Linked DNA regions of Homo sapiens. The protein of the gene in region 7 purifies or fractionates together with the protein of the main gene of each other region. This does not show direct contact. Each region holds a gene or a part of one and is shown on either strand. Other genes may lie near its edges. The genes, in order: POTEI, GPC4, MTCH2, MTNAP1, RTN4, FGF2 and HADHB.

What was found.
Region 1: the proteins of HADHB (region 7) and POTEI purify together in Homo sapiens (affinity purification with mass spectrometry; 2 studies listed by BioGRID and IntAct, with this or other methods). This does not show direct contact.
Region 2: the proteins of HADHB (region 7) and GPC4 purify together in Homo sapiens (co-immunoprecipitation; one large-scale study listed by IntAct). This does not show direct contact.
Region 3: the proteins of HADHB (region 7) and MTCH2 fractionate together in Homo sapiens (co-fractionation; one large-scale study listed by BioGRID). This does not show direct contact.
Region 4: the proteins of HADHB (region 7) and MTNAP1 purify together in Homo sapiens (co-immunoprecipitation; 3 studies listed by BioGRID and IntAct, with this or other methods). This does not show direct contact.
Region 5: the proteins of HADHB (region 7) and RTN4 fractionate together in Homo sapiens (co-fractionation; one large-scale study listed by BioGRID). This does not show direct contact.
Region 6: the proteins of HADHB (region 7) and FGF2 purify together in Homo sapiens (co-immunoprecipitation; one large-scale study listed by IntAct). This does not show direct contact.

Annotation. Positions count from the first base shown.
Region 1 is NC_000002.12:130,502,829-130,506,328, forward strand, and holds part of POTEI (POTE ankyrin domain family member I), read right to left. Parts: intron 1,067-3,500; coding exon 952-1,066; coding exon of another isoform or gene 922-951; intron 792-921; coding exon 618-791; intron 1-617.
Region 2 is NC_000023.11:133,405,490-133,408,989, forward strand, and holds part of GPC4 (glypican-4 precursor), read right to left. Parts: intron 1-3,500. UniProt on the Homo sapiens protein: Cell surface proteoglycan that bears heparan sulfate. May be involved in the development of kidney tubules and of the central nervous system.
Region 3 is NC_000011.10:47,625,560-47,629,059, forward strand, and holds part of MTCH2 (mitochondrial carrier homolog 2), read right to left. Parts: intron 3,488-3,500; coding exon 3,394-3,487; intron 1,569-3,393; coding exon 1,521-1,568; intron 183-1,520; coding exon 115-182; intron 1-114. UniProt on the Homo sapiens protein: Protein insertase that mediates insertion of transmembrane proteins into the mitochondrial outer membrane. Catalyzes insertion of proteins with alpha-helical transmembrane regions, such as signal-anchored, tail-anchored and multi-pass membrane proteins.
Region 4 is NC_000017.11:73,245,933-73,249,432, reverse strand, and holds the end of MTNAP1 (mitochondrial nucleoid-associated protein 1), read right to left. Parts: intron 2,193-3,500; coding exon 2,092-2,192; 3' UTR 940-2,091; coding exon of another isoform or gene 897-939; 3' UTR 474-896; downstream 1-473. UniProt on the Homo sapiens protein: Critical regulator of mitochondrial DNA (mtDNA) abundance. Binds dsDNA throughout the mitochondrial genome without sequence specificity and controls mtDNA copy number by promoting its replication.
Region 5 is NC_000002.12:55,022,952-55,026,451, reverse strand, and holds part of RTN4 (reticulon-4), read left to right. Parts: coding exon 1-1,366; intron 1,367-3,500. UniProt on the Homo sapiens protein: Required to induce the formation and stabilization of endoplasmic reticulum (ER) tubules. They regulate membrane morphogenesis in the ER by promoting tubular ER production.
Region 6 is NC_000004.12:122,875,331-122,878,830, reverse strand, and holds part of FGF2 (fibroblast growth factor 2 isoform 18 kDa), read right to left. Parts: intron 2,511-3,500; coding exon 2,407-2,510; intron 1-2,406. UniProt on the Homo sapiens protein: Acts as a ligand for FGFR1, FGFR2, FGFR3 and FGFR4. Also acts as an integrin ligand which is required for FGF2 signaling. Binds to integrin ITGAV:ITGB3.
Region 7 is NC_000002.12:26,268,939-26,272,438, reverse strand, and holds part of HADHB (trifunctional enzyme subunit beta, mitochondrial isoform 1 precursor), read right to left. Parts: intron 2,487-3,500; coding exon 2,442-2,486; intron 1-2,441. UniProt on the Homo sapiens protein: Mitochondrial trifunctional enzyme catalyzes the last three of the four reactions of the mitochondrial beta-oxidation pathway.

The DNA.
Region 1 (3,500 bases), about 100 Mb from region 7:
ATACAAAGGGAACAAATCAATCAACAACGACAACACACACACACACACAACCTCTTCATGGTCTTTTCCCTCTATTACCTAATTTCCAAATTGGCCTTGATATTTCTGATTGCTCTCTTTTCCGCTTTCCACTTCTGCCTCATGAGCAATCAGAAATATCTTAAGCCTTGCCACTGACAGGCGCATCACCTTCGTATCTATTACTGTTTCTTAGGAACTTGCCAAAGGGGCAGGATCTCTATTCATTGAAACATATTTAAGTTTTCTTGGAGTTTTCATGTAAAACCTATTTCAGGGCAAATTTTGCCATTTTACATTCATTAGGGGAAAAAAATCCTAGGAGGGAAAAATTGAAAAATAGTAAGTATTACCTTCTACAAATTCAGTGCTTTCAAAAAAATTATTTACCACAAGCGCATTAAAAAAAAAACTGTACCCTCTAATGCTTCTTTGAAAGTAACAATATTTAAAATGAAGTCTTAGATAATTAGGTCATTTCAAAATATTTTCATTCAGGTTATGCTTGAGCTTCCAAATATGGAAGACTGGCCCTTACACAGGTCAATGTTAAAATGAATGCATTTCAGTATTTGAAGATAAAATTGGTAGATCTATACCTTGTTTTTTGATTCGATATCAGCACCGTATAAGAGCAGTGCTTTGGCCATTAATTTATCTTCATTGTAGATAGCGTAGTGTAGAGTGGTATTTCCATACTCATCTGGAATGTTTGGATCAGTGCCATGTTCCAGCAACATTAACGCACATTCATCTTCCTGGCATTGTACGGCCTGTCAGTATTAGACCAAAAACAAATTACAAATCCTAGGAATTCAAAATAACATTCCACAGCTTTCACCACCTAAGTTATATTTAAAGGAGAAAACTCATTTTTATGCTATGTATTGAAATCAAACCCACCTCATGCTGATATAGTTGGCTACTGCATACCTTTGTCAGAGCTGTCCTCTTTTTGTTGTCAAGGACATTAAGTTGACATCGTCTGTCCAGCAGGAGTTTTACTACTCCTGAATTCCCATTGGCAGAGGCCAGATGTAGAGCAGTCCTATGAGAGTGACAAGACTTTTTAGGAAATTGTAGTGCACTAGCTACAGCCATAGCAATGATTCATGTAATTGCAAACACTGAATAGCCTGCTATTACTCTGCCTTCAAAACAAACATTTAACTTTCCCATGAAAAAAGCACACTATTTATTATCTCTCTTTACTCGCTGTATTAATGAAAGAGCATCCTATATGAATACAAAGAGCATAGCCCTTGGATGACATTCAACTTGAGCTGGAATCCTACTTGAAGCTCTGTCACTTCCTGGCTGTTGCTTAGCCTTTTGGGGTCTCAGTTTCCTCATCAATAAAATAGGAATGAAAATAGTAGCTTTCTTACGGGAAACCACTGTAATGCTTAAATGAGACTCTGCACAAAAGATATAGAATAGTTCCTAACACAAATAACAGCTCAATAATTGTTAGATATTTTAATTTTTACTAATACCACTAAAGACAACATTTGAATTGAGATGATACAATTATACCTGCACTTTCAGGTGTGTTTTAAATATTACAGCTAACATTGTATTTTAGTGATTCTGAGATGATCATTGTCTCCATGTTGTCTCCACTGAAATACCACTTACAATTCATGATTTACTATAATTTGCGGCATTTAAATAATTCTCTTATTGAGGCATAAAATAATGGGGCATCATACAATCCCTGGTGTCTTACATTAAGTAGAATATGTTACAACAGGTCTGGGGCGGTTCCAGTCAGATGACCAGCATTTAGATAAATTTTAGTTCCTAAAAGAACTATGGAATAAGAGAGCAGAGGTGAAAACAAAAACAAATTTCTAAAATAAACCAATTCTTACTTTGGTTTTCAATAAACTTTAAGTCAAAGAAAACTTGGAATTCAAATGAATAGCATGGGCTCATTTTTGTCAACACTTAGATTTATACAATGTATGTACATCAGATATTTCCAATCATTCATATTAGGATTTAAGACTGTTATAAATTTTCTTGTTTTAAAATGGATTTATGAAACTATTTGTGGAGCTTTTTTCAACTTTTACATTCAGGGATACATGTGCTGGATGTGCAGGTTTGTTACATAGGTAAATGTGCACCAAGGGTGTTGGTTGTACAGATTATTTCATTACCCAGGTGTTAAGCCCAGTACCTGTTCATTCTATTTCCTGCTTCTTTCCCTCTTCCCACCCTCCACCCTCTGATAGGCCCCAGTGTGTGTTCCTTCCCTCTAGGTATCTGTGTGTTCTCATCATTTAGCTCCCACCTGTAATTGAGAACGTGCTGTATTTGGTTTTCTCTTCCTATGTTAGTTTGCTAAGGATAATGGCTTTCAACACCATCCATGTCCCTGCAAAGGACATGCTCTCGTTCCTTCTTTTATGGCTGCATATTATTCCATGCTGTTTATGTACCACATTTTAGTTCTTAAAACAACTAAAACAGTCTTTTCCCCAAGACATAAATTTTCAAAAGGGCAGTTAAAGGTTATCTATTACTATTTTCTACCTCCAGAAATGCTTTTGTTTGAAAGGAGGGAGGAAAAGCTTCAATTGAGATTAAGTCCTAATGCCCCAATTTTAAATCTCTCAGCTTGCTCAAGCCCAGCAGGAAAACATGTAGTTTTCAAAGACGGAAGGATCCTGAGAGATAGTAGAATATGCCTGCCACATAATAGGTGTCTGGCTTATGTCTGATGACTAAATGGATAGGAAAAATGGATGAACACAGCTTGGGAGTTCAATATTTTTAAAGAAAACTCCTATAGAGTAGCGCAATACATTTGCAATAGCAATAATCATTTATATTTGCTATTTTAATTTTCATAAATATATAACTCAACTAAAATGATTAATTCATACTTTTTACATGTTAATCTATATATAATGAAAAGATAATTATGGAATAAAATGTATATATAATAAAATCTACAGGAACAGGTAAACACGACCCCTCTTCTTCTGAAGAGGGTAAAAGTTCACAGAAAATAGCCAACCACAGAAATAAAAATAAATAATAGAATGTGAGGAATTATTTGCATCTATGCAAGAAGCATATTCCTTCTCTTCCCAAGGATTATTGCATTAGTAATGAACCTTAACTACAACTTCAGATGTTCATTGCAGAAATCACAGATAAGAGAAAGGGAAAAACTTCACTTACAAATCCCCAGAAACAAGTTTGATTATATTTTCTACAGATTTGCAGCTAACACGAGCAGATTCTGTTCGTGTATATGTGTAACAAACTGATTTTTTTCTCACTTGATATAGCAAAGTACATCTTTGCACGTCGACATATCTCTGTATCTACTGACACCCTCAATAGTTACATATTATTCCATCCTATGGATGCACTGAAATTTGTTCATAAAATCTTTATATGGGTTCTTCTAAATACACTGCTATTTTAAGCAATACTAAGAAAAACACATCTATTTCGTAAAGATA
Region 2 (3,500 bases), on a different chromosome or scaffold from region 7:
GTGCCCTCGATGATTATGGTTACAAAGGTGGCTTTGAGCATTCGCCCATTCTAGGAGATCTCAAACTGCCAAGATCAGCAAGTTCTGGCTCTCCCATTCAGCTTCTGGTCACCCTCCAACTGTCCTCTCTCACTTCTTCCAGATGTCAAGTCTTACCTGCCTCTAACACGATCCCTTCCTGTGATTCCCATCGGCCCCCAACCAATACCATTTGCTACTTCTAATCTGCCATAGACTGGGAAACTGGATAACCAAAGCATTTTATCTTCTCACGTATAAACCCTATCTACCTAATTTGAATGCAAGTTCCTCAAAAGCTTGATTCCTGCTTGACACCTCTTGGAATCCCCTGCACCCAGCATACTGCTCTGGATACAGGAGCCATTCAATGATTGCTGATAATAAATTTCTGAAGGCCTTTTCTCCACATAGAATGCATGGGCTTTATGACAGCTGTTTCCATCATTTGGCTTTTCTGCTTACTTCCACATTCCCAGCTGTGTTCTGGATGGTTGCACCAGCTAGAAGCCTAGGGATTTACTGTACTTCTATTTCTTGATAAGATACTTGAAGAGAATAAACACATGGCAAAGAGGACATTAAAGTAAGGGATAAAGAGATTTATTTTAATTTTACCAATAAAGAAAAAGGGAAGAAATATCACCTAGCATGTTGACACTTAATCAATAAATGACAGCAAGGCTGGATTCTGTTCTAATTCTTTCCAAAGTATTCTCATTGTGCTTGTCTTATGTCTCTACCTGCAGCAAAGCAGCACTCAGTTGTGGTTCACACTTATATCTTGATTGAAAACATTTTCCTCCATGTTTGACACACCTTTCTCTTAAATCCAAGTTAGCCAAAATTAAAACAACCATGCACTGATTCTAAACTAAAGGCTTTATCTCAAACAACATTTTGTGATGAATCTCATTGGAAAATTTAGAATAATAGAATCTCAGAGATGGAAGGGACCTAGGCCAGGCATGCTGGCTCACGCCTGTAATCCCAGCACTTTGGGAGGCCGAGGCGGGCGGATCACGAGGTCAGGAGTTCGAGACCAGCCTGGCCAACATGGTGAAACCCTGTCTCTACTAAAAATATAAAAAATTAGCCAGGAGTGGTGGTGTGCTCCTGTAATTCCAGCTACTCAGGAGGCTGAAGCAGGAGAATCACTTGAACCCAGGAGGCGGAGGTTGCAGTGAGTGGAGATCATGCCATTGCACCCAGCCTTGGCAACAGAGCAAGACTTCGTCTCAAAAAAAAAAAAAAAAAAAAAAGAAAATTAAAAAAAACTACCATGGGCCAGGCACAGTGGCTCACGCCTGTAATACCAATACTTTGGGAGGCCAAGGTGGGTGGATCACTTGAGGCCAGGAGTTCAAGACCAGCCTGGCCAACATGGTGAATCCCCATCTCTACTAAACATACAAAAAACCAGCCGGGTGTGGCAGCACACACCTGTAGTCCCAGCTACTCGGGAAGCTGAGGCAGAAGGATCGCTTGAACCCAGGAAGTGGAGGCTGTAGTAAGTTGAGATCACGCCATTGCACGCCAGCCTGGGTGACAAGAGCAAGACTCCATCTCAAAAAAAAAAAATACACACACACACACACACATTCATCCATCCATCCATCCATCCATCATGGCCTAGTCCTTCCTGAAAAAAGTATTATTTCATTGGTATGGGGTGGTACCCAGGCATTAGTATATTTTAAAAGCTCCTCAGGTGCCAGGTGGTTCAATTTCACCCCATTTTTCAAAGAGGGAAGAACCTCACCAAAGGTATTTGACAACAAATTTGCCAGAGTTAGGCTAGAACTACTCATCCTAACAAGCCATGTCTTCTCCATGTAAACTACTCCATCTACAACAGTGGAGTCTCTTCCCTCCCTCACTCTCCCTCTCTGTCCAACTATCCCCACCTATCTCAAAGTAAATATATTTTCTGAATATTCTTTGCCTTAGAATCCCATTGCATAATTTTTAAAAACCTAAATGATGTATGTCTGCTTCCCTGTATCCTCATGCTTTTTTTTCCACACAAAGAATCCCGAGAGATCAATCAGGCATGGTTTACCCTTAAAGAAGCCATATTGCTTCTCCCTAGATAGGTTGGACTCAACCCACCCTTTTCACCATTATTATCACACATGCCATCTTTCAAATCCCTTGCAAGATTCAACTTCAATTCTCTGTCAGCCCACTTAATTTCTAGTTTGTACCTGGGCCTTGTGAAACCTAGTGGACTTCCCTCTTCTGGCTTAAACTCTTTGTATTTTGTGAAAGATGCCTTTTTCCCTGAAGCAGCCTCTTTTACTCTGCCAGTTAGTCATGCCGGGTTCTTTTTTTCTTCCCCCGAGCAGTTGGTCTTTTTGATGTCTGGCACACATTTATCTGGGCTTCCAATAAGATGTTTTTACATAGTTTCCAGGCTTCCTGGAGGTTATTGACTTTTTTAACTCTCCCATTCAGTTTTTTCCCCTAATTTCTAACATTTGTTAGAGTTTCTTTCTCAAAAGTTGAATACCTGGCTGATGCAGCTCTTTGATTTTTCTCTCCCACCAGATTGCTGAATTAAATGCATCAGAACTTAAACATAATATTTCAAATTACCTCCAGGATGGAATCGCTTCATGCATTTTCTGCACTTTCATGTTCTCTATAGTAAGCAACAGATGTTTAACCAAGTAGATTTGAAAATGCTAGTTTTTACCTGTTTGTATTTTAGTATGTCTGTTTATTTATATAAAATATTCTGATACCCTTCAAAGCTTGTGTTCTTCTTGGTAAAGACAATAAACTTGAGTTTTTTTATGTTAAAAGGTAACTGATGCACACTGAACAGTTGCATGTGGTAAATTTGCTCTAAATTGCCTAATCACAACAGTCTCAACTGTTCATTCTTTAAAGAAGTGTATCTCAAGGCATTAAGAAAAACAATTCTGAATCTTTCTGAAAAATTCCTGGCCAGTGCAGTAGCTCATGCCTGTAATCCCAGCACTTTGGGAGGCCGAGGTGGATCACCTGAGGTCAGGAGTTCAAGACCAGCCTGACTAACATGGAAAAACTCCATCTCTACTAAAAATACAAAATTAGCCGGGCATGGTGGTGCATGCCTGTAATCCCAGCTACTCTGGAGGCTGAGGCAGGAGAATGGCTTGAACCAGAGGCGGAGGTTGCGGAGAGCTGAGATCGTGCCATTGCACTCCAGCCTGGGCAACAAGAGCGAAACTCTGTTTCAAAAAATAAAAAAAAATCCTATAAGCATTCAGTTATTAATGAAGTGGTAAAGACAAGTACTCCCCCAAAAGAATAAAAACGTTCTCCAAGCTATACCAACATATGCATATTTACTTTAAATTTATTTCACTTCAAAGTGTTTAGATACAGGCCTGGAATGGTGGTTCATGCCTGTAATTCCAGCACTTTGGGAGGCTGGATCATTTGAGGTCAGGAGTTCTAGACCAGCCTGGCCAACATGGTGAAACCACGTCTCT
Region 3 (3,500 bases), on a different chromosome or scaffold from region 7:
ATACCAATCAGAGATTGATACTGATCATTCATCTTTCCTAAATTTCTACAAGGCTGCTCCGCCTGTCAGCATACAGTCAACCACCTACTAGAATAAGAAATACAAAGTGCTTACCCACAGTTGTTGACAGCCATAAGATTGGAGACAAGCACAAAGGGATAGGTCAACATACTCGCAAAAAACTGTAAAATGGAAACAAGGCAGCTGTTATTAGATCATTCCTAGTCTTTATTCTCCTTTCCTTTACCTTAAAGGCCTAGTGCCACTGCGGTGAGACACTCTAACACTTGTCTCGCTTCATCGGTACCCTGGAAAGACAACAGTTACAGTTTTGAGCCTGGAGATGCTTCTTCCTCTTAGCACACCACTGCATCCAACATTTTAACAAAAGGCCAGAAGAATTCTCTGATCCTGAGTAGCTGGGACTATAGGCGCACGCCACCATACCCAACTACTTTTTTTTTTTTTGAGATGGAGTTTCCCTCTTGTTGCCCACGCTGGAGTGTAATGGTGTGATATTGGCTCACTGCAACCTCCGCCTCCTGGGTTCAAGCGATTCTCCTGCAACCTCCGCCTCCTGGGGTTCAAGCGATTCTCCTGCCTCAGCCTCCCAAGTAGCTGGGATTACGGGCATGCACCACCATGCCCAGCTAATTTTGTAGTTTTAGTAGAGATGAGATTTCTCCAAATTGGCCAAGGTGGTGTCGAACTCCCGACCTCAGCCTCCCAAAGTGCTGGGATTACAGGAGTGAGCCACCGCGCCTGCCCCAGCTTTTTTTTTTTTTTTTCACTTTTGTAGAAATGGGGTCTTGCTCAGTTGCCCAGGCTGGTCTTGAACTCTTGGCCTCAAGTGATCCTCCTTCCTTGGCCTCCCGAAGTGCTGGGTTTACAGGTGTGAGCCACCATGTCTGGCCTGAACAATATTATTTCGGAGGAAAGGCACGCCCCTTATGAAAGCTAAGCAGTACCAAACCATGCAGGATGTGAGGCAGGGGTTCTGCCTTACTCTCTTTATTTTCACATGTGAGTCTGTGGTTCCTTCGAAAACTGAGTTATTCTCTCTTTTTTTTTGAGATGGAGTCTCACTCTGTCGCCCAGGCCGAAGTGCAGTGGCGTGATCTCAGCTCACTGCAGCCTCCATCTCCCAGGTTCCAGTGATTCTCCTGCCTCAGCCTCCCGAGTAGCTGGGATTACAGGCATGCACCACCACGCTCGGCTAATGTTAGTATTTTTAGTAGAGACGGGGATTCATCATGTTGGCCAGGCTGGTCTCGAACTCCTGACCTCAGGTGATCCGCCCACCTCACCTTCCCAAAGTGCTAGGATTACAGGCATGAGCCATGGCGCCTGGCCGAAAACTGAGTTATTCTTACCTTTGACAAATATAACAAATTTCAGGGAGATGTCCCAGTGAGACATCTGGTTATCTTAAAGCAGTGATGACACAAGCCAGATTTAAAAGGAAAACAAAACAAAACACAACTATTCCTAGAAGGTTAAAAGGATTTTAAAAAACTCACTCCTGTGACAGCTTGAGAATAACTCTTCATTTCATTCATGGTAGAAACCTAAAATAGGAAAAGAGCCTTAAATTAATTACCTACAACACTACAACACATCAATATATTCTTTTTTCCTTTTCTTTTCTTTTCTTTTTTTCTTTCAGACAGTGCCTCACTCTGTCACCCAGGCTGAAGTGCAGTGACCTCCTGAAGCACACATCACCACGCCCAGCTAATTTCAAAATATTTTTTAAGAAATGGTGTCTTTTTTTTTTTGAGATAAGGGTCTCCCTATGTTTGCCCAGGCTGGTCTCAAACTCCTGGGCTCAAGAGATCCTCCCACCTTGACCTCTCAAAGTGCTGAGATTATAGGCATAAGCCACTATGCCCAGCTAAGAGACGGTGTCTTGCTATGTTGCCTAGGCTGGTTTCAAACTCCTGGCTTCAGGCAAACCTCCCACCTAAGCCTCCTGAGTCGCTGGAATCATAGGCTGGAGCTACTGTGCCTTGCTCTCCATGTCAATATAGTCTATCTCTAAATTATCAGTTTGACAGCTTGAAAATTAATTTTTTTTTTTTTTTTGAGACAGGATCTCATCTCTCTTGTTGCCCAGGCTGGAGGTGCAGTGAGCTGTGATCTCACAACCTTGACCTCCTGGGCTCAAGTGACCCTCCCACTTCAGCCTCCCAAAGTGTTGGGATTACAGCATGAGCCACCACACCTGTCTAAAACTAATTTTGAGGACAAAACCATAAAACACTGATTATTAGAATAATAAGGCAGTGGTCAAAATGATCAACCTGATTCAATATTAACAGACAAATTCATATTATACTAAAATGCTTTAGGGACGAATGTAAAAGGATTTCAAATACTAAAGAAAATGAGATTGATAACCTTTTCACACATCCTAGAAATACAGTCCCTGGAAAACCACATTTATAGTATATCTAAGGGACAATTCACTACCTTTGTTTTACACAGCTAGCTTTCTACCAGATGCGTTGAAGAAAATCCCTCTCTGTACTCAAGAGGTTTACAACATGGATTTAGTCATATACCCTGTGATGTGTTCAATTTATCATCATGCTATGGAGCTGCCGACATACAAGAGGCCCCACAACTGCTGAGATAAGAAAGACAACTTCTAGATAAGACTGATTCTCAAAAGGCTGAGGTTTCTAGAAAGCCCAATACAGGCACCCTCTTAAGTCCAGATTAGATGAAAAGCCCCCGATACACCATAAAGATGTCCTGCTTTCCCAGGTTCTCTCAAGTTAAGTATCAGTAAAGAAGTGATCTCTTTAAAGCCCTGAAGTAACACAGGGCTAAGTCTCTTGGGTATACTCTGTCACATCTTACGGACTTTTAACGTGTATCGTTCTACAGTAAACAGTATCGTTCTACAGTGAACAGTATGCTCATTTCATTAGCATTTGAAAATTTGACTGATAATTTTTAGCTATATAATTGTTCAGTCTGGCATGTAGCAAACTGTCATCTTGTTTATTTATTTATTATTTATTTTTTGAAATGGAGTCTCCTTCTGTCACCCAGGCTGGAATGCAGTGGCGCGATCTTGGCTCACTGCAACCTCCGCCTCCTGGGTTCAAGCAATTCCCCTGCCTCAGCCTCCCAAGTAGCTGGGACTATAGGCACGCACCACCACGCCCAGCTAATTTTTTCTGTATTTTTAGTAGAGACGAGGTTTCACCATGTTGGCCAGGCTGGTCTCGAACTCTTGATCTCAGGTGATCCGCCCACATTGGCCTCCCAAAGTGCTGGGATTACAGGTGTGAGCCACCTCGCCCGGCCCATCTTACTTTAAAAGCTAATCTAGCTGCCAGATTAAAGCCAAGGTGAGCACATCTCACGAAGGTCACAACCTACCCCACTGTCCAGTGCATAGGTATTGACGAGGTAGGCCAGTGAGTTACACAGCCACAAAGAAAGGATGTCACCTAGAAGGCGAGGAACAAGACCCCTACATGAAGAAA
Region 4 (3,500 bases), on a different chromosome or scaffold from region 7:
GCACAGAGCTACGTAGGCAAATCACTCTACCTCAAGCCCGTTTTCTTTTTGGAAAATGAGCAGGATAGCACCTACGCCACAGGACTGTTTGAAACTAAAAGGAGAAAACACATGTAAAAAACCTTGCATGGCACTCGGCACAAAGCAAGCCCCAGATGTTGGCTGGATCTGCCTGTGGATTGCAGTAGGGCCTCTCTTCCTCCGTTCAAGGTTGGAATTTATATATAGTATGATGGCACATACTACAGGCTTTAGAACAGCTGCTGTCAATGAGTTCCTACCATCACAGACGTTGCTGGAATTAACACATGTAAGACTTCTAATCTCACCAAATGTCTGCAAAGTAGGAATAATTATCCCTAAATTACAGTACAAAGGAGGCTCCAGTAAACTGGGTAACTTACCCAGGGACACACCCACCCATTTCACAGGTGAGGCTCTAGAAGAGGCATATAATCAGCTCAGGGGAGTACTTTTTATATTTTACAAATAATTTTATTATGAAGAGTGGCGGAAGTAGTATGTAGATGCCCCATAAAGTATAAAAGAGTCTGCTGATAATAAAATGATTTTATTTTTAACAGCTAAAATAAATTTTAATGTGCATTAGAAAAACTACACATTCCCAAGTAAACTCAGTCTTTCAGATATTATTCAGGATTAAACAAGGCCGCCCCGAGGTTAATCCACTTACACAGACCACGTGTGAGTTACAGCCGGGGTATTCAGGCATGTCCGTGAATATTCCCAACTTGTAGTAACAGAACCTTCAAATACGTCCTCTCAAGCATGGACAGTAGCCTGGGTGTCACCATGCCTCTTCTGCGGGATGGATGGGAAGGTGAATATGGATTACGTGTATGGATTCTCACGCTGCATTTGTATGCACCTTGCAGGAAGATTCGGGAATTCAAGCTGCTGCCTGGAAGCAAGATCTAAGCGTTGCTTCTTACCTAGCGGGGCACTCCAATGCCACAGACAGGGCAGAACACGACTTTTACCCCCTCCTTCTGCAGCATGATTTTAAGAGACAAAACTTATAAGGCTGTTTAAAATGGTAAATCATGTTAGAGACGTTCTTTTTCTTTCCTTGGCTCTGTGAAGAGATGAGTAGTTACCCCGCCTCACACCTGAAGCGTACTGGCTTCTGTGGGTAGCAGTCTTACTTGTCTACTATTCGTTCTGAGGAGTCTTGTCTTTCTGGATGAAGCTTTTAATCTGGTGATCACATACATGATTGGAACTGGCTGTGCAAATGAACTGATAGGAATTTTGCATACATGAGCGAAAAATGTATCCTCACGAGGCAACTTTACATCAGTATTGCACCCTGGAGCTGTGAAGTGTGCTTCCTCGTCATGCTGAGTTTGTTTAGATCTAAATCTCAGAAAATAATCAGCTATCAGTTTACCTCAACAACGCTCTTAAACTATTCTGAACATTAAGAAGAGATTCTTGAAGGACTTGAGAAAACATCTTCAATTATTTTCCCAACCCAGGTGGCAGCAATGAGCAGACAAGGAAGCCTTTCCTTCCATTACTCTGTAGACATTTACAAGTCATCCCAGAATGTGGAGATGTTTCCAATGGCTTCTTGAAAGTTATCCACACTACTGTATTGTGGATTCTCAGTATCTAATTCAAAGAAGTCAGTGGAGACTTTTTGTTGTTTCCTACTATATGTGAGTTAGAATTCTTGGTACTTACCAATGTCAAACAAAAAAGCTGTCTTCTTATTAATACAGGATCTCACCTTTGCCTTAAACTTGGCAATACAAGGCAGATATCCTTTTAGGACTCATGGATCATTAAATAGTTCTATTCTCATTAAATAACTTATTTTCAGGGATATAAAATATTTACTGTGACTAAGTTAAACCTTTTCATTATGTTTCAGCACCCTGATTATGACAAGTGATACTACTTTATTTATAGCAGTGATACAAATGCTCCTGATAACCTTGAGGGCTGAAAAGCTATCCCTTAATGCTACCACTACACTTAGGTGTTACAGGGCAATTCAGTGGGCAACACAGGGCACGAAGGCACTAGAGAGAAGTCACGAAGGCTTCTCCTACTTAAACGTGCTTCCTAATCCAAACATGTTTTAGAGCGGCAATCCCCAGTCGTCTTCGCCACACCAATGCATGGAGGTACTGTGCTCTTCCAGGGCAGGGGTCGGCACAATTTTTCTGTAAAGGCCAGATAGTAAATATTTTCAGCTTTTCAGGGCATATGGTTTCTGTCGCAACTACTCGACTTTGCTGTTGTTGTGTGAAACAGCCATGGATGCCACCTAACCAAATGAGCAGGGCTTGTTTTTGTACATTTTGACTACATACAAAAACAAGGCAGTGGGCTGGCTTTGGTCCGTGGGTCACAGTGGGGTCTGCTGCCCCTGCTCGAGGGAACTGGGGGACCGGGAAAGAGGGTATTACTGAAGGTCATTCTCATCTACCTTCTCACCTTGAGAGTTTCTGGTCTTGAGTAAGGACACATGGGGAGGTGTGGAGAGAATCCTTAAGCATCTCTCCTAAAGAGCATTCACAGAGAATGGGCACAAAGCTCTTTCGGCAGGGAAGATTGTTCTGGGTTCCAATGAAGTTCTTAGTAATATTAAACTAAAATAACTGAATGTAGAACTCTTCCCCTCAACCACAACTTTTTTCCTTACAGAGAATTCTAGGATACAGGGATATATTGCTGAATACCTTAACTATGAGAATTTGTTGCAGAATTAAATTACTCCCACTAGGGATGGAAAGGAGCAGGGGATTGGGAATAGAAAAGGTAGGTAAAAAGTAGCCCCAGCATTCCAGCTTTGAGAAGAGAGAGAAACGACATACAAGTCAACACATGCTGGCTGTGGCTTTCCTGTAGGTTTTTTGGGATTTTTGAGACAAGGTTTCACTTCCATCACCCAGGCTGGAATGCAATGGCACAATCTCAGCTCACTGCAGCCTCCGCCTCCTGGGCTCAAGTGATTCTCCTGCCTCAACCTCCTGAGTAGCTGGGACTACAGGCGTGTGCCACTGAGCTCAGCTACTTTTTACAATTTTTTTTTTGTAGAGATGGATTTCACCACATTGCACAGGCTGATCCTGAACTCCTGACTTCATGATCCGCCCGCCTTGGCCTACCAAAGTGCTGGGATTACAGGCGTGAGCCACCGCACCCAGCATTCCTGTAGTTTTAAAAGAGCTGGGACATAAGAGGAACTGACCTCATGTATTTTGGCATGAGGACACCACAAGCAAAGCTGAGACAGACGGGTGTGTGCGTGTGATATATAACTAACCCTCTACGTTAGAAAGGAGGTTGGGGAAACACTTATCCATCAACGTTGCCTAAATTTCCTCAAAGCTTTTTCTACCTGTAAGTATCCAAGTTACTCTCTGTGGGCCAAAGCAGAAGTCAAAAAATCAGACACTGAATAGTTTGATGAGATGAAGAGACACAGAAAACCCACCAGCCAAAAACAACCCTAACAAATGGAGAGG
Region 5 (3,500 bases), about 29 Mb from region 7:
CTGACTCCAGATTTAGTACAGGAAGCATGTGAAAGTGAATTGAATGAAGTTACTGGTACAAAGATTGCTTATGAAACAAAAATGGACTTGGTTCAAACATCAGAAGTTATGCAAGAGTCACTCTATCCTGCAGCACAGCTTTGCCCATCATTTGAAGAGTCAGAAGCTACTCCTTCACCAGTTTTGCCTGACATTGTTATGGAAGCACCATTGAATTCTGCAGTTCCTAGTGCTGGTGCTTCCGTGATACAGCCCAGCTCATCACCATTAGAAGCTTCTTCAGTTAATTATGAAAGCATAAAACATGAGCCTGAAAACCCCCCACCATATGAAGAGGCCATGAGTGTATCACTAAAAAAAGTATCAGGAATAAAGGAAGAAATTAAAGAGCCTGAAAATATTAATGCAGCTCTTCAAGAAACAGAAGCTCCTTATATATCTATTGCATGTGATTTAATTAAAGAAACAAAGCTTTCTGCTGAACCAGCTCCGGATTTCTCTGATTATTCAGAAATGGCAAAAGTTGAACAGCCAGTGCCTGATCATTCTGAGCTAGTTGAAGATTCCTCACCTGATTCTGAACCAGTTGACTTATTTAGTGATGATTCAATACCTGACGTTCCACAAAAACAAGATGAAACTGTGATGCTTGTGAAAGAAAGTCTCACTGAGACTTCATTTGAGTCAATGATAGAATATGAAAATAAGGAAAAACTCAGTGCTTTGCCACCTGAGGGAGGAAAGCCATATTTGGAATCTTTTAAGCTCAGTTTAGATAACACAAAAGATACCCTGTTACCTGATGAAGTTTCAACATTGAGCAAAAAGGAGAAAATTCCTTTGCAGATGGAGGAGCTCAGTACTGCAGTTTATTCAAATGATGACTTATTTATTTCTAAGGAAGCACAGATAAGAGAAACTGAAACGTTTTCAGATTCATCTCCAATTGAAATTATAGATGAGTTCCCTACATTGATCAGTTCTAAAACTGATTCATTTTCTAAATTAGCCAGGGAATATACTGACCTAGAAGTATCCCACAAAAGTGAAATTGCTAATGCCCCGGATGGAGCTGGGTCATTGCCTTGCACAGAATTGCCCCATGACCTTTCTTTGAAGAACATACAACCCAAAGTTGAAGAGAAAATCAGTTTCTCAGATGACTTTTCTAAAAATGGGTCTGCTACATCAAAGGTGCTCTTATTGCCTCCAGATGTTTCTGCTTTGGCCACTCAAGCAGAGATAGAGAGCATAGTTAAACCCAAAGTTCTTGTGAAAGAAGCTGAGAAAAAACTTCCTTCCGATACAGAAAAAGAGGACAGATCACCATCTGCTATATTTTCAGCAGAGCTGAGTAAAACTTCAGGTAATCCAATCTATATGCAGTTTTGTGCTTTCATGCCACTTTTGGATTTAGGGAACATTCCACTACATTTTGTGTTTTATATTATGTTTATAGTGTCTCATATGTCACATTGGTAAGAAGTCTTCTCCACTTTTTCAGTTAAAGGTTTTAGTGCTTTTTCTAACTCTCTTGCACTCAGCATTCACCCTTAACTTTTCCACACAGTTACACTTTTATATTGCACTATGGAACTATTAATAGAAAATATTTTTGTTTATAAGAATTGGCTTTAGTACCTATTTCTTTCTTTCTTTCTTTTTTCACTTGTGTTTCTTGATAACATGAAGAGCAAGAGATATTAAAATATTTTCAGATGTGTTTTTGTTATCCCAGAAATTACCATATTTAATTTTTAAAGAAAATTTCTATAGTATGTTTTAAATATTTCTATATAATATAGTACTTTTCCAGTGGTAGGTATAAAGTTAGGCATATTGAGTGTAGACATTTTGTTGAAAAGTATAAAATGAGTTATGCTATTATGAATTCTTTTGAAAAGTACCGATTCTCCTTTTTTTCTTTTGACTATCCATTTTCCACATACCTGATTTGCATAAGGTGATTTGCACAAGGTGATTTGCACATGTGCTCTTTATTAGCATTCTGATTTAGCTGCGTTTTCTCTAAAATAGTGATTATGATAAATTTACTGAATATACTTATGTATTTAAGTGCTGGTGCTTCAGCAGTACAGTCCAGCTCATCACCATTGGAACAGTGGTAGACCAGTTGCTGTAATCTAAGAAAGAGGAGATTATGAACATTCAGGCAGTGGGATGAGCACAGAGACATAGGACTTGGTGTTTGACGGATAGGGACATAAAGGATGAGGGGAAGAGGTAAAGATGACCCCAGGAACCCTGGATTTCATTTCTGGCATGTGCACTTGTATGGGTGGCAGTATGAGAAACTGAGATAGGGAACATGAGAGATTAAAGTAGGTTTAAGAGGGAAGATACAAATTTGGTTTTGGATATGTTGGTATTGATGTACATACCTCTAAGATATCCAGTAAGTTATGGATATTATACACATGAAGCTCTTGAGAGAGATCTTGGCTGTATGTGTCTGTCATGGGCTTAGAGATAGAAATTAAAGCCCCAGATACCAATTAGGAAGAATCAAGAGAAGAGGACTACTTGAAGGTGGAAGAAATGGTCAAAATTATCAAATACTGGAGAGGTCAGTTAAGGATTGCAAGTTGGTCAAAAAGGAGGGAAGATATTGTCATGACAGCGGCAAATGGTGTGGTGTGCATGGGCATGGCTAGGATTGAGAAGTGAATGAGACTTGAGTAAGTGGTTATTAAATGTTGATTACTCTTAAGAAGTTTGAGATTTTTATTGGAGAAAAATTAAAATATTAGCAAGCAGGAAGGAGAGTATGCAGTGGAGGTAGGACTTTTTTTTTAAGGTGGGAAGGGGAAAATCTGATTACAGGTGCTGGCAGAAAGTCAGAAGGGGATGGGGATGTGCTGCCTAGTTCAGGTGGAAGAATTAGTGTTAGAGAGAAGGAACGATAGAGCTTTGATTGTAGTGAGTGGAAAGGAAAGTATGGGGTATTGATACTGTTAGGGTTTTGTGACTGAAAGTTGAGGGAATTATTTGATGGTTTATGTTTGTTCTTTAAAGCAGTATGTTAGTTCATTTGCTGGGAATGAAGTAGATCATGCTTGGGTGGAAGAGATCTGCAATACCTCTGACTAGGGAAACCAAAGGCATTGTATTAGGAGCCTAATCAAGGTTGAAAGGTGGTCTAAATGGTAGGGTGACTTTTCTTTGATTGTGCCAAACAACCTAGGTATGGGTTCAGGGAAGGCAAATGATTGTATTGATTCAAGGATGTGTTTTGGCAGGTGGGCCCTGTGGAAGGACAGTAAGTCAAGAAAGTTGAGGGTGATAGCAGGAGAGTAATTTGAAGTGATGGACTGTGGCATCTAAGTTGAAGGATGTGAATAGAAAAAGGTAGGAGAGGTAGGAGGAGAGTAGATGGTCAGTGAACTCAAGGCCCAGATTAGGTTTAAGAACCAATAGTAGTAGGAATAAATACATGCCAGAATGATAGGAGATTGTGGTCAAAGTAGGGGAGAGAAAGA
Region 6 (3,500 bases), on a different chromosome or scaffold from region 7:
TTTGACTTTTCTTTCATCTTCAGTCCTAAATCTAATCAATCACAAGTGCTAGCACTTTCCTCACTCCTCTCTGACCTACTGTTATTGCCAGGATCAGAACATGACTTGCTTGGACTATTACAGTGGCCTTCTAACTGATCTCTCTCCACCAGTCTTGGCCCCCTCAAGTCCATTCTCTACACTTCTGCCAGGATGATCTTTCTCAAATTTAAATCTAATTAGATCTCTTCTTAAAACTCTTCATGGCTCTCCACTGCTTATAGTCAGCATGGTGTATAAAGCCCTTCAACAGATTCAGCAGACAGTCTATCTACCTCCCCAGCCTTCTCTCCCTTCCCTTCCACCTAGTTACTCCATTGCACTATACATTCCAGCATTAGTTAATTACTTGTAATTCTAGAGATACATCAAGTAGATTTTTTATCCACACCTTTTCATGTCCTATGTCCTAGAGTTATCTATACCTTCATCTCAATTTCTTCTGCCCCATGACTGCCTGCTGAACTCCTTCCTTTACAACGTCTAAAATTCTACTTATAGGTCATCTCCCCCAATTCTAGAAAAATGTAATTACCTCATTTTCTATATTGCTTCCTATATCATAATACTTCTTATCCTTTCCTATATTACTATGCATGTATGCAAAATATAGAAGTAGCATATCAAAACCCTTATACATTATTATAAATACTTATTTACACTTCTGCCTCCCCTGGATTGTCACTCATTAAGGGCAGAGACAATTTGATATTCAATTTTATAAGCTCAATGCCTACCATAGCATCTGGCACACTTTCACTTAATAAGTATTGGCTATTCTTAAAGAGAATTCTAAAATTTATTCAACTACCTCCCCCCAAAATTGAGAGCCACTACACTCAAACTTGTGATTTATCCTGCAAAAATTACATAAACTGGTAATATCAATGTAAGTATATCTTTGTCATACAGTCAGTCTGAAATTGGGATAGTTTAGATACCCTTTTTCTCTGTAAGCCTTGTTTTGGTGCTTTTAGAAATCCAAAGGTCTTCATTCAGAAGAAATTTCAAAAACTATTTGTATAGCTCAAAATACCACAATTTCTTAGTACTGTTAGATCCTTTCTGTGGGGAGGTTATATAGAGATGTCATAACTGGCCAGTGGCATTGGTGTAAGAGCTGTGAAACACACACACGCACAAACATTTACATACATGTCCTATCTACTCCCTCACGGAGACAGGAATGAGATCTGTCTTTTATATTTATTTTCCTGCACCATTCTTTATACATCATATGTTCAACAGATATGCAGTCCCGTTTCTAATAATAATGGTGAAGTTGACAGGGAGCCTGTACTAGTGGAAAGAATACTAGCCAGGAACTAGGACCCCTGATAAGCTGTGATAACATGTAAAAAAGAAAAGTTCCTCTCTACAGCCAGGCACGGTGGCTCACGCCTATAATCCCAGCACTTTGGGAGGCCAAGGCAGGCGGATCACCTGAGGTCAGAAGTTCAGGACCAGCCCAGCCAACATGGCGAAACCCTGTCTCTACTAAAAAATACAAAAAAATTAACCAGGCATGGTGGTGCATTCCTGTAATCCCAGCTACTCGGGAGGCTGAGGCAGGAGAATTGCTTGAACCCAGAAGGCAGAGGGTACAGTGACCCGAGATTACGCCACTGCACTCCAGTCTGCGCAGTGGAGTGAGACTCCATCTCAAAAAAAAAAAGAAAAAAAAAAGTCCCTCTCCTGACATATATGTAAATGAGAAGTAATGTGAGGAAGAAGTAACAATTTTCAGGATCTATTACGTGTCAGATGCTGATTTGGGCACTTGATGTGTAGTATCTAATTAAATTCTGATAAAATCCCAATGAGATAGTATCATTGTTTCTATTTTACAGGTAAGAGAACTAACTCAGAATCATTTGCCCAAGAACACAGAGCTCATAAGTGGCAGAGTCGGCATCTGTACCAGGCAGAAAGCTTACATTCTCAACTAGTGTTCTACATTGCTAGTGTTTTGTACGTCACATTCTAAAGAAGAAACTTAAAAACTAATAATCAAAATTGTATACATTTATTCCCAATGATCTTCAAACAACTGCATAATAGAAGAAAATTTTTTTTAAATTATAGCTTAATAGTTTTGCAGAGTAAAAGCAGTGACTTAGAGGTCAGGAATGCCTCCAGCCCAATCCAGTCTCTACTTTATATGAGCTGTGTTTTCTTACTTTACTTACTCCCTCAGCACATCAGTTTTTGCATCTGTGAAATAAAGAAAATACTCCCTATTTTACAGGGTGACTATGACGATGATACACGTAAAATCCTTTATAAAGATTTGATAAACAACAATGCTGGTAAATTAACAGCAATAAAAGCTAACAAAAAACGTGTGAAAACAGAAAGTATGCTTACAGAAGCCAGTAATCTTCCATCTTCCTTCATAGCCAGGTAACGGTTAGCACACACTCCTTTGATAGACACAACTCCTCTCTCTTCTGCTTGAAGTTGTAGCTTGACTGTAACGGGAAAAAAAATTATCTTTGTAGCACCACAGAGGAAAGAGCCTTCTTCACAATATTTACGCAATATAAAGACAAAACACACCTAAGCAACAACTAATCCACTTTGGAGGATTGGTGAGGTTGGGGGTATGGGTGAGTGACAGGGAGCAGATGTCAACTAAACTGTATGAGAGAGGATGAGATGCAGAACTACTAGGGCACCAGTGCCTTGTGAGTTCCTTGTCGCTCCTGTGTCACAGGGTGAGCAGAGAAGGTGTCACAGGGTGAGCAGAGAAGGGGGACACACGGAGAATTGTTTCCTTTGTTGGGCAGTTAGCTTTCAATCGCCCCTGTTAACTATTTACATTTTTTAAAGTGAACATATTTTAAGGGTACATAAAAGTGTAGGAGAATTCCCATGCTACTGCCTATGTTGAAACTATTTAAAAGTTATTTGCCAATTCTTCACAAATGAAACAAAATCTAGTTATTCACTGTTATAATTTGAGCTGTATTTCCTTGACTTTTTGAGACGGAGTCTCTCTCTGTCACCCAGGCTGGAGTGCAGTGGCACAATCACGGCTCACTGCAACCTCTGCCTCCCAGGTTCACACCATTCTCCTGCCTCAGTCTCCCAAGTAGCTGGGACTACAGATGCCCACCACCACGCCCAGCTAATTTTTTGTATTTTTAGTAGAGACGCGGTTTCACCATGTTAGCCAGATGGTCTCGATCTCCTGACCTCGTGACCCACCTGCCTTGGCCTCCCAAAGTGCTGGGATTACAGGCATGAGCCACCGCGCCCGGCCCTATTTCTTTGACTTCTACACATCTTATTTCTAGCTTCCTCTTCAATGAACTATAGATGCATTTAGCTTTCTATATGGGATTTTGATGTCTATTTTTTTGTGTGCAAATATCTATCTAGTGGAAACACAAAATGCTTATACTTAATTTGCTTACACAGCAAATGATTTTCATAAAATAAGTGTGATGAAAGATTTT
Region 7 (3,500 bases):
GGGAGGCGGAGGCTGCAGTGAGCCGAGATCGTGCCACTGCACTCCAATTTGCGCAACAAGAGCGAAACTCTGTGTCAAAAAAAAAAAAAAAAGACAAATGGGACCATATCAAAAACAGGAACACGGGGTATATACATTTGTCAAAACTCATCAAACTATACACTTAAAATCTGTGCACTTTATTGCATGCAAATTATATATCAACAACCAGCATTATACTAAAAAACAAAAGGCACACAGGAGCCAACTTGAAGGAGTGCCAGATAAAATGTGGAATAAGCTGAGCTTCAAAATGAGTAATGACTAAACTTGGCTACAATGAAATAAATAAATAAAAATCTGTAAAATCTGTAGTTTTTTATCAATTAAAAAAACTAAAAAGAGGGTTAGAAACATTGGCTTACGCCTATAGTCCCAGTTACCTGGGAGGCTTCGAGGTTGCAGTGAGCTATGATCAAGCAACTGCACTCCAGCCTTGGACAGAGTGAGACTCCATACAGAAAAAAATAAATTAAAAATTTAAAAAAAATTTTTTTTTTGAGACAAAGTCTTGCTCGATTGCCCTGCCTGGAGTCTAGTAGTGGAATCATAGCTCACTGCAACCTTCAACTCCTGAGCTGAATTCTCTTGGTTGGCTAATTTTTAAAATTTTTTTTTGTAGAGATGGAGTCTTACTATGTTGCTTAGGCTGGTCTCAAACTCCTGGGCTCAAAAGATCCTCCTACCTTGATCCTCCTGCCTTGGTTTCCTAAAGTGCTGGGATTATAGGTGTAAGACACCATGCCTAGCTAGTAGATGAGATTTTTAAAGGAAAATATGCATACAGAGAAATGCAAAGCTCTAAGGAATGAAACTTGCAAAACACCTTTCAAAAAGAGAAAGAGGGAGAGATCCAGTTGTGTGTGTGTGTGGTTTTTTATTTTTATTTTTTGAGACGGAGTTTTGCTCTTGTTGCCCAGGCTGGAGTGCAATGGCGTGATCTCGGCTCACTGCAACCTCTGCCTCCCAGGTTCAAGGGATTCTCCTGCCTCAGCCTTCCAAGTAGCTGGCATTACAGGCATGTGCTACTACGCCCAGCTAATTTTGTATTTTTAGTAGAGATGGGGTTTCTCCATGTTGGTCAGGCTGGTCTTGAACTCCCGACCTCAGGTGATCTGCCCACCTCAGCCTCCCAAAGTGCTGGGATTACAGGAGTGAGCCACCGTGCTTGGCCCAGTTTTTTTTTTTTAAGCTAGAGAAGAATCGGCCGGGCGCAGTGGCTCACACCTGTAAGCCCAGCACTTTGGGAGGCCGAGGAGGGCGGATCACGAGGTCAGGAGATCGACACCATCCTGGCTAACACAGTGAAACCCCGTCTCTACTAAAAATACAAAAAAAAAAAAGAAAAAAAAAATTAGCCGGGCATGGTGGCAGGCGCCTGTAGTCCCAGGTACTCGGGAGGCTGAGGCAGGAGAATGGCGTGAACCCGGCAGGCAGAGCTTGCAGTGAGCCGAAATCACGCCACTGCACTCCAGCCTGGGTGACAGAGCGAGACTCCGTCTCAAAAAAAAAAAAAAAAAAGCTACAGAAGAATCAGTCAGGATACAGAAGAAAAAGAAAAATCATAAAGGCATATTACTAAGAAGTCAACAGAAGAGAGGTGATTATAGCTTACAGTGTCAAGTGCTATAAAGTACAGAGACAGAGGACTGAGAAAGGATCAGTACATTGAGCAATCATAAAACCATTATTAAGAGAAGATTCTAAAGTATGGTTTCTGTAAAACAAAGGGAAAATGGAAATAATGATTATACAATTAGACAGAGGAAACTAATAATAAGGAAACAGAAACAACTGCTCTTTCACTCATGCTTGAGGTATTGCAGGAAGAAAAAAAAAACAAACATAGAGTTAGAATGGACAGAAAGGTCAACTGAAGGGTTTCTCCAAACTAAGAAAGAACTGTGGCTGGTTGAAGACACAAAGGCAAAGTGTCAGTGGAAAATGAAGAGATAATGCCTTACATGTTATGAAACAGCAACACATTTAATGATTCTCAACCAAATTATTCATCCAGCCTAATCTTATTTAACTACATCTAATTTTACATTTTTACTTGGTTTGCACATGAATCTTCAGGTGTCTTTTAGGCTTCTTTCTAGGTAAATATCTACATAATCTGTTCAGCTACCCTTATACAAGTTCCTAAGGCAATCATCAAATATATGTATTGTGTTTAGGCTGATCAATCGAGTCCTGTGGCTAGCTAAGGTAGCATTAAAGTATACTGTCAGGCTAAGACACTGTTAGGCCTGCAAAATAAAGATTGACAATATTCATAAGCTGCTTAAATTTGTATAGTACAGATGGCTAAAATAAGAACAAATTGCTATTTTATGTGTAAAAACTGGAGAAAGTGCCTTTAATGAAATAAGAACGGAAATGAAACTGCATTTACTTACGTAAGCGCTGCTCTAGCCAAATCATGTGGCATCAGGTCTTTATATCTGGGGAACGAAAACCAGTAATTTAAACCAAAACCCTAGAGCTTCAATGAAAAATTTTCATTCTATTTGAAATACCCAGAGATCATCAAACACATGCTGCTACAAACACACTTAACTTTACTATCCAAGGCAGTCCATCATTTCAAATGAAGAAATAGTGTGACTTCGCTATTTGTCATCCTTAAAAGTCTAGCAAGCCTTAACTCCTCCTGAGCTTGCTAAGAATCGAACAAAAATGTTGTCCAACACCTTAATGTTCAGTATAACATATGCTAAATTTTCTTTAAAGTGAAGCCCCACCTTTGAGGTCTCTTTTCCTTTAAACATTTTATTTTAAAAGTATATTATTTATTTATTTTGTAATGCCTACAGGGCTACAGGTGATGTATTAGGACTTTTGAAGAAACTTTTTGCTTTTAAGTAACTTGAGATTTACCAAAGAATTGGAAAGAGGCCAAGCATGGTGGCTCACACCTAGAATCCCAACATTTTGGGAGGCTGAGGTGATATGACTACTTGAGGCCAGGAGTTCAAGACCAGCCTGGGTAACAGAGCAAGCAAGACCTTGTCTCTTACAAAAAATATTAAAAATTAGCCAGGCGTGGTGGCATGGATCTGTAGTCCTAGCTACTTGGGAGGCTGAGGTGAGAAGACTGCTTAAGGCCATGAATTTGAGGCTGCTAGGATCACACCACTGCACTCCAGTCTGGGCAGCAGAGCAAGACCCTGTGTAAATACATAAATAAGAATTGGAAAAAGAGAGCAGAGTTCCTCTTTCCCCCTGCTGTTTTTTTTTTTTTTTTAAGACGGAGGTTCGCTCTTGTTGCCCAGGCTGAAGTGCAATGGCGCAATCTCAGCTCACTGCAACCTCCACCTCCAGGGTTCAAGCAATTCTCCTGCCTCAGCTTCCCGAATAGCTGGGATTACGGGCACCCACCACCACGCCCAGCTGATTTTTTTGTATTTTTAGTAGAGATGGGATTTCACCATGTTGGCCACGCTGGTCCTGAACTC